2 separate regions of the Homo sapiens genome follow, and region 1 is linked to region 2. The links come from fine-mapping of genetic effects on gene expression. Tissue or cell type: testis. Region 2 holds a variant in brackets; the other region holds the start of a gene. All regions are shown on one strand. Distances are between the middles of the regions.

The links. PIP is the estimated chance that this variant, and not a neighbour inherited with it, causes the effect. A credible set is the group of variants that fine-mapping cannot tell apart.
Region 1: it holds the start of PTTG1, and the variant in region 2 is the best candidate, but not a certain one, in a credible set for the expression of PTTG1 in testis (GTEx, PIP 0.82).

The regions. Positions count from the first base shown.
Region 1 is chr5:160,419,925-160,424,206 of GRCh38, forward strand. PTTG1 (PTTG1 regulator of sister chromatid separation, securin) reads left to right here and starts at 1,931. Exons shown (of 6, transcript NM_004219.4): 1 at 1,931-1,967; 2 at 2,378-2,479; 3 at 2,785-2,969. The coding sequence starts at 2,389. RefSeq lists silencers at 1,766-1,825, 1,926-2,085 and an enhancer at 2,180-2,736.
Region 2 is chr5:160,460,574-160,464,826 of GRCh38, forward strand. No RefSeq gene overlaps it. Among named protein-coding and RNA genes, the nearest start is that of MIR3142HG, 5.6 kb to the right of the region's middle. RefSeq lists an enhancer at 1,862-1,941. The variant C/T (reference allele first, on the strand shown) is at 1,571.

The DNA of each region.
Region 1 (4,282 bases), 41 kb before region 2:
GGAGTTTAGGAACATAAATATTAATTTTGCTTTTACAGGGCAGTAGATGAAGAAACAGTGTCAGAGACTAGCGTGAAAGTGAATAGAGTCTATGAATCACTCAGGCTTTGTTTTTTTCCACTTAAAAATATTCCTGAAATTTGCTTAGGAGTGTTAAGGCCTAATTAGCCAAAACCACCAGGAGAGCGCATCTCGAAGAGGAATCAGAAAGCGCAGGACAAGACAGTTGAATCTTTTCTAAGACTTGAGGTCCCTCTGGAGGGTTCTGAGGAAGGTCTAGGAAAGCCGGGATTGGTTCTGGATGGGTTGCTGTTTGTAAAGAAGGATTGGGAGAAACTGATTAGGGACTAAGTGCTGTTATGAGTGAGGGTGGTTTAGCAATTGAGTATTTCCAGTAATAGGAATAGCAAAGCTGGTCTGAGGGCATCATTAGTAAGAAAACAGTGGTTATTCAGAGAGGGTGGTTATGGTTTACAGCTGCTGCATGACCTTAGGAGAAACAATGCTTTCTGTTGGTGAAAAAAAGAAGACATCCTAAGACAAACCTTGCACCTCAAAACCTCTGTAGATAGAGAATCCCCACTTGGAAGCTATAGGTGTTGTGCAGATTTAGTCTTAAAAATTAACACTTTGAGTGCTGATAATATAATATGATGATGTAAAATTTAGGAGATACAGGAGGAAATAAAGGATGGGGATAAAGGAAAAAGAACAGTGAAGGGACAATAAAGGTATGCATATTTTTCTGTCTTTCCTCTTTTCTTCACCTTAAGTTAGGCTCTTTTCTTATAACCTAGTATAATGTCCAGCATTTAATAGGTATTCAATAAATATTTGTGAATGAATGAATCATTCAATCAATATTGGTCCTGAAATGCCAGGGAAAAAGAGATGATGAACTGGCATATATTGAGAACCATGTCTATGTCAGGTATAGTGTCAAGCCTTTCGTGAAAGAGTAATATGGAATCAACTCCTCTCTCTCAGCTGATCTGCAGCTTAAAATGCATATATGGTGAACTGTGGGAAGCGGAGTTTGAATGACACAGGTCAGCCTTATGTTTTAATTTATATCTTCATCTTGTAGTTGTTCAATGTATTCCATTTTACTATAGAAACAGGAAAAGGTCGTCAACTTTTTCAAGCAAAATTTCTTTTCATATCTGGGAAATTGGAATTCCTTTTTTATATCTTTATTATCTCTCTGATATTCTCTTGCTCCCTGGCCAAGCCCTTCCAGGCAACTTTGGTTAATATATTATTGAGATGTTAGAGGTTTAAAATAAATCACTATCAAAGGATAGAATTTTAAGGGAAGACTAAATTATGTATTCATTAGAATCATAATTTTGTTCCTAAGACAGATTCGTGATGGTATAATAGAAACAGTGTCTTAGCCTGAAGTATTGAGGATAGTCCTAAGATTAGGGAACGATCAGTTCGTTCTTAATCATAAGCATAAGAGAATGACTCAAACGCTGCTGTTTGATCTACCTGTACTTACATTTCTTCTTAATTTTAAATTCTTCTCTGCTAGTATTCTTTAGACCCAACATTGGTTGTTTCCCCTATTTCTTCAATATTTCTATTTATTTTCCATCCTTTTTACAGGGTCATCTAAATAAAAATATCTTAAAGCAATAAACCATTGTTATTGAGTCAGTACCTCAGTCCATGCAGCTTAATAATATGGAGAGCAAAAAAAAAAAGCCTCTCGATTTATTTTTTAATATTACACGATCCTAGTTTTTTCTTCCCAGAAAACGTGCCACAAAGTTTGCAAGAAAGAGCTTTTGGGGCGGAGCCCTGGCTGCTTAGGTCCTTTCCATTGGTTCTACTTGGTGACCACGCCCACGGCCCCGCCTCCTGGGCGGAAGAGCCAATTGGGCCGCGAGTTGTGGTTTAAACCAGGAGTGCGCCGCGTCCGTTCACCGCGGCCTCAGATGAATGCGGCTGTTAAGACCTGCGTGAGTGAATGGGAGGGTCGCGGGTGGTTAGTTGAGCCGGCTCCGGCGGGGAAGGAGGCGGGCTGCGGCTGCGGCTGGGGCTGAAGCTGGGGCTGGGGTTGGGGGACTGCCCGGGGCTTAGATGGCTCCGAGCCCGTTTGAGCGTGGTCTCGGACTGCTAACTGGACCAACGGCAACTGTCTGATGAGTGCCAGCCCCAAACCGCGCGCTGCTCGGGACCTTAGAGCCTCTGACTCAGGCTGGAAGATTTGAGAGCTGGATTAAGTACTTGTTGGCTCACGCCCGTGACTGTTCCGCTGTTTAGCTCTTGTTTTTTGTGTGGACACTCCTAGGATAGAAAGTTTGGTATGTTGCTATACCTTTGCTTCTCCCACCTTCCCCAATATCTAATATGTATTTCTCATTCTTAGAATAATCCAGAATGGCTACTCTGATCTATGTTGATAAGGAAAATGGAGAACCAGGCACCCGTGTGGTTGCTAAGGATGGGCTGAAGCTGGGGTCTGGACCTTGTAAGTATACAAGGCTGCAGTCGGATACACTGGTATTGTGGACGTGGCCTGGAGCTGGACGAGACATTTAGTGTACTTTTTGGGCAATTGGAGTCGTTTGTTATTGGTCCTTTTTCATTTTTAATATCTTAATGAGATGATTTAAGGAAGTTACTGAATCTCTGCTATTAGGCCTATCATAGCCATGCCACTACCAAAAGTGGGGGGTGGGTTTGGGGGTGAGAGGTCAAGTTTATATACACAGTATTTAAGTTGTACAGGTATTTTGCTGCTGGAATATTCTTATGGTAAGACTTTTTCTTCAGCAATCAAAGCCTTAGATGGGAGATCTCAAGTTTCAACACCACGTTTTGGCAAAACGTTCGATGCCCCACCAGCCTTACCTAAAGCTACTAGAAAGGCTTTGGGAACTGTCAACAGAGCTACAGAAAAGTCTGTAAAGACCAAGGGACCCCTCAAACAAAAACAGCCAAGCTTTTCTGCCAAAAAGGTAAGTGTTGGCTATAAAGACACTGTTTAAACACTTAAGCACTTTTGACTCTTAAAATGACTATTGGCATCATCCTACGTAGCTTTCTTCCCTCTGAGTAGAAGGGAAATAGAGGTTAGCAAGCAGAGTAGTGGAGGAGACTCAGATTGTCCTTGTGGACTTCTTGGTACCTTGAGATTGGAAATCTCAGATGCAGCTAATGCATATTTTTGCCTCATGCATATTTTTGCCTCACCTGTCCTTCACTAGTGTCGTGAAACTGGTTGGTGGTGTCTACTTACAGATACATACTGAGAGAGAGGGTGCCTTAAGAGAAACTGGTTGGTGGTATCCACTTACAGATACATACTGAGAGAGAGGGTGCCTTAAGAGGTTCTGTTGCTGCTTTAATAGCACAGGTGCTGCCATTCTCTTAGCCTTCCAGGGCAAGCAGCAGCTTGTTAGGTGACAATTTGCTAGCATGTTGATCTTCGTGTGAGTGTGAGTCACAAGCTACAGGTCTGTGTATCCCAGATGAGAGGACTTTGCTGTGAAAGATGACATTAGCATGTGGATTAACACTTTATTTGAATAACTGTTTTGTTTAATTTGCATTAGGAAACAACTAGTGAATTACATATAGTGCAACTTAGGACAAAGATGTCTTCTTTAAAAAGTGAATTAACTTAAAGAAAAATATTAAATACAGGAATTGCAAAGACATGGCAAAAACAATGAGACACAGAACCGAAGTGTGAGAACCCCATAGGGAATTCTAGGCATGCATATGTGAGGTGAGATAAAGCAGGAACATGCCGGCTTCCATTGTAGCACCCTTCTATAGTAGACTGTAGTAGACCTGTCAACTCCAGACTAGAAGATTGCCCATGGTGTTTATTCTAAAGTCCTTGACAGTGTCTTGCTGCCTCTTACTCAGTGTGTGTATTTGAGGAACACAAACTTGTTTTTAATATTAACCAAGCAAATAATTTAAGGTAACACTTGTGGAAAAAATCACACTCCTATAAGCCAAAAATGGCTTTGATGATTAGCTACTATCCTGGGTGATTCATGCCCATTTTCTCCTCTGTTAGGTTGAATAATTGCATTGATTAGCTCTGAATTAACTGCATTCTTGATCACTTATGCTGACAGGTGCTGGTACTTAAATTTCAGATTTTAACTTTTGAGTCATGCTACTCGAATTACATTTGAATCATATTATTTGAAGTATATTTAGGTGCAATTATGAAAACTAAGGATTATGGCTTCTTAGAAGGCAGCATGAAATTGACAAATTTAAAAACTAATCAGCTAATAAGACTTCCACTGTC
Region 2 (4,253 bases):
CCTGGAATGTAGTCAGTGTCCAGAGAAAGAAATGCAAAGGATTATTCGTCTGAGACAAGTGTATCAATTAGGGATTCTTATGTGCAAATTACAAAAGACCAAACTTAATTGGCTTAAATAGCAGATTATTGTTTTATATAGCTGAGATGTTTAGCAGGAGATTTGACCTCAGGTAAGGCCAGAATTAGGGACTCCGGTGATATCAACAAGAGCTTTCTTTAGTATTGGCTTTATTTTCAACTCTTATCTGGAGCCCTCTGGCAGCTCCAGACTCCCCCTTATGGTAGCCAAAAGGCTATGGTAGCTGCAGGCTATATATTCTTCTTTTTTAAAAAAATTATTTATTTAGAGACAAGGTCTTGCTATGTTGCCCATGAAGGACTCAAACCCCTGGGCTCAGGCAACCCTCCTGCCTCAGCCCACGAGATGCTCAGATTACAGGCTTAATCCTGGCGAGGCCCCATCTTCATATTCAACACTATCCAGGGGAAGAGAGAGGGTTTCTTCTGGAGACTCTTCACAAACCTCTGATTGTTTCTGTCTTATTGGCCTGAATTGGGTCTTGGGTCCTTTTCTGAAACAATCATCACTGTTTGGAAGAATGGTTTAAGCCAGTGGTCCTTAACCTTTTTGGCAGAAGGGACTAGTTTTGTGGAAGACAATTTTCCCATGGACCAGGGCAGGGGGATGGTTTCTGGGTGATTCAAGTGCATTACATTTATTGTGTACTTTATTTCTATTATTATTACATTGTAATATATAGTGAAATAATTATGCATCTCACCATAATGTAGAATCAGTGGGAGCCCTGAGCTTGTTTTCCTGCAACTAGACCGTCCCATCTGGGGGTGATGGAAGACAATGACAGATCATCAGGCATTAGATTCTCATAAGGAGGGTGCAACCTAGATCTCCTGCATGTGCAGTTCACAATAGGGTTCGCGCTTCTATGAGAATCTAATGCAGCTGCTGATCTGACAGGAGGTGGTACTCAGGCGGTAATAGGAGCAATGGGGAGCGGTTGTAAATACAGGTAAAACTTGGCTCATTTGCTCTCTGCTCACTTCCTCCTGTGCGACCTGGTTCCTAACAGGCTATAGACCCATACTGGTCTGTGGCCTAGGGGTTGAATCTGGAAAAGTATTAGGAAGGGAAATGGATGCTAGACAGCCAGTACATAATAACTGTCCACCAGAATAATCAACTGTTTATTTATGGACTACCTCCTACACGTCAGAATGGCTCTAAACATTTTACATGCAGCAACTCTTTTAATCCTAATAAAAGCCCTGTGAGGTACGAATATTTTTTTCTTTTTTCTTTTTCTTTTTTTCTTTTTTTTTTTTGTGATGGAGTCTTACTCTGTCGCCCAGGCTGGAGTGCAGTGATGTGATCTTGGCTCACTACAACCTCTGCCTCCTGGGTTCAAGTGATTCTCCTGCCTCAAACTCCCGAGTAGCTGGGATTACAGGCATCTGTCACCATGCCCAGCTAATTTTTGTATTTTTAGTAGAGATGGGGTTTCACCATGTTGGCCAGGCTAGTCTTGAACTTCTGACCTCAAGTGATC[C/T]AACCTCCTTGGCCTCCCAAAGTGCTGGGATTACAGGCATGAGCCACTGTCCCCAGCCTCCAATATTTTTTCTGTCCCCAGGTTGAGGCGACAGAGGCAGACAGAGACCAAGTAGGTGGCTCATTTGGCAAGCAGAAGTGAAGGGATGGCAGCCAAGCAGTCTGCATCCTCCAACCCTCTGGTCACAACACTGTGCCATGGTTTTTACCAGACTCAGGCTGGGAACCACAAGAAGTTCTGCTCTACGTAATCATTTCCCTAATACTATTTGCTGTAAACTGTATTTTCCCTTGAGATGCTTTTGAAAGAAGATGATGTTCCCATATTGCCCTAGATCATTCTACTTGGTTGAAAACTTTTGGGTAGTTTTTTTAATACTTTCATGCTTTTAGAATGCATGAGAAAGACAACCACTGTTTGCCTCAAATTACCCTTAAATGGCACTTATCTCTGCTCTATAAATATTTACTATCTGTTGGTGCATTGGATCTATGTTTCTAGTCTTTTGTCTGTAATGTTTTACTAGCAGCATGGCTAGTGTTGTTTTTCTTCACCCAGAGGTTTTGAAGAGGCAGAGTTTGTAGAGGGGGAAGCAGGTTGGGGGGAAGATGTCTATGAATCCCTGCTTTCTGATCTCCTTTCCTTCCCTTATATTTCCTCCTGCCTCTCTCTCTTCCTTTATCTATCTTTCAAACTAACAAATTCCCCCTTTTTATAAAAGTCTAATATGGTTAATTTTTTTTTTTTTTTGAGATGGAGTCTTGCTCTGTTGCCCAGGCTGGGGTGCCGTGGCACGATCTTGGCTCACTACAACCTCTGCCTCCTGGGTTCAAGTGATTCTCCTGCCTCAACCTCCCAAGTAGCTGGGATTACAGGCATGTGCCACCATGCCCAGCTAATTTTTGCATTTTTAGTAGAGACGTGGTTTTGCCATGTTGGCCAGGCTGGTCTTGAACTCCTGACTGAGTGATCTGCCCGCCTCGGCCTTCTAAAGTGCTGGGATTACAGGTGTGAGCCACTGCGGCTGGCTTTAATTTTTTTTTTTTTTTTTTTTTTTTTTTTTAATGTAGAAAGCACAGATGAGAAAAGGTAAGAAAGATCTCACATAGTCCCATCTTCCTCTTATCTTTTTGGTGTGCTGTTTTGCTTTTTGCACAGATACTAGATGACAACAACAAGCATTTCATAGCATTATTTTCCCTTTCAAAAGACAGCTAGAAGGTTTAAAAAAGTTAAGTATTCTTTAGCATCGTCATTTAAAATAGAGTAAATGTGCTTACGTTGCAGATGTGCCATAATTTAACCAATTCCCAGTTTGGGACAATTAAATTTGTTGCTAATATTTTGATGTTAAAACAGCTTTACTCATGAACATTTTTTGGCTAAATCCTTGCCCACGTTATCGGTGACTTCCTTAGTTTGCTGGGCAAGGATGTGTTCCCTTTGGTAAGTCATGCCTGCCTTTCCTCTGTTCACCTTCCAGGTATGGCAGTCTGCAATGTTAGTATGCACAGAAACTCATGGTGCCCTTGTGTGCCATCATCAGTACTCCAGCCCCTGTGGACTTCTGAAGGAGAGGATGCTGTGCTTCTCTTATAGGCCCAGTTCCTTTGTTTCCACATCTAGCTATGCAGAGATTTCCCATTTACACATTTTCAGTTTCAGGAGCAGAGTCTCAGGATGCAGGAACACAGCTGGTATCATTATTGTTTTTCTGCATATTGATAGTGGCAGCGTAATGTGATCCTTTTCCCTTGCGCAATGCTTTAGATAGCGCTCTGGATGTCCAGCTTGGGAAAAGGCCACATGAGACACACAACAAAGATATTTAGTAGGTGATCTCTTTGCTCTGTCATTTCCTGGGGCTGCTATGAATCATGTATTATGTTTGGCACTTTACTGGCTTTTAAAATAAATGTAATCTTTAATGCAACCTGTCAGGTATTTGTTACTTCTGATTTTATTAAAGAATGGCTTAGAGAATTCAAGTTAGTTTTTCTCAGCAAGAGTCTAAAGCCCAGCTTTTCGACGATTTCTTGTTGCCTTTACAGGTATTTAAACTGGTCAGAGAGATAAGTTCTGCACAAATGAAAATTCAAAAACATGGTATAAGGTATCTCTGCCAGACAGGCTTGTGCTCTGATGAAAGGAGGGAGAAAGTGTGGGCTGTGGCAGGCAGGAGGGTGTCTAATGATTATTATGCTTGATATGCAGCACCTTCGTGGGCCAAAGGGCATTTGGTTACATGAGAGTTTTCTTTGGATATAGGAAGTCCAGCAGGTTCACTTGAACCTGCAGGGACAAGGGAGAGCTGCATCCCGAGTCTGAGCCCCATCTAAACTGCAAGCCAGCTGATCAAGTACCAGCTCTAATCCTTACCCCAACAGCGGCTGTCTATTTGGGGAATTTCCTGAGTTTAAGAACCCCAAGCATCTGAGCTACCGAGTGGGCTGGAAACACAAACGTTGTCGTGACACTTGGGGGTATTTTTTTTATAATTGTATATGTCACAATTTCCTACTACCAGATCAAAGAGTCTGAGGGCCAAAGAATTCAGGTGGAGACTTCCCCACAGTACTCAGGGCATACCTGAGGGTCATCTTTCCAGTCTATATTTTTGTACTTTTGAGCCCACACTGTGACATTTAAGGTGAACAACAGCGAGATTCTCAAGTCCCCTGTA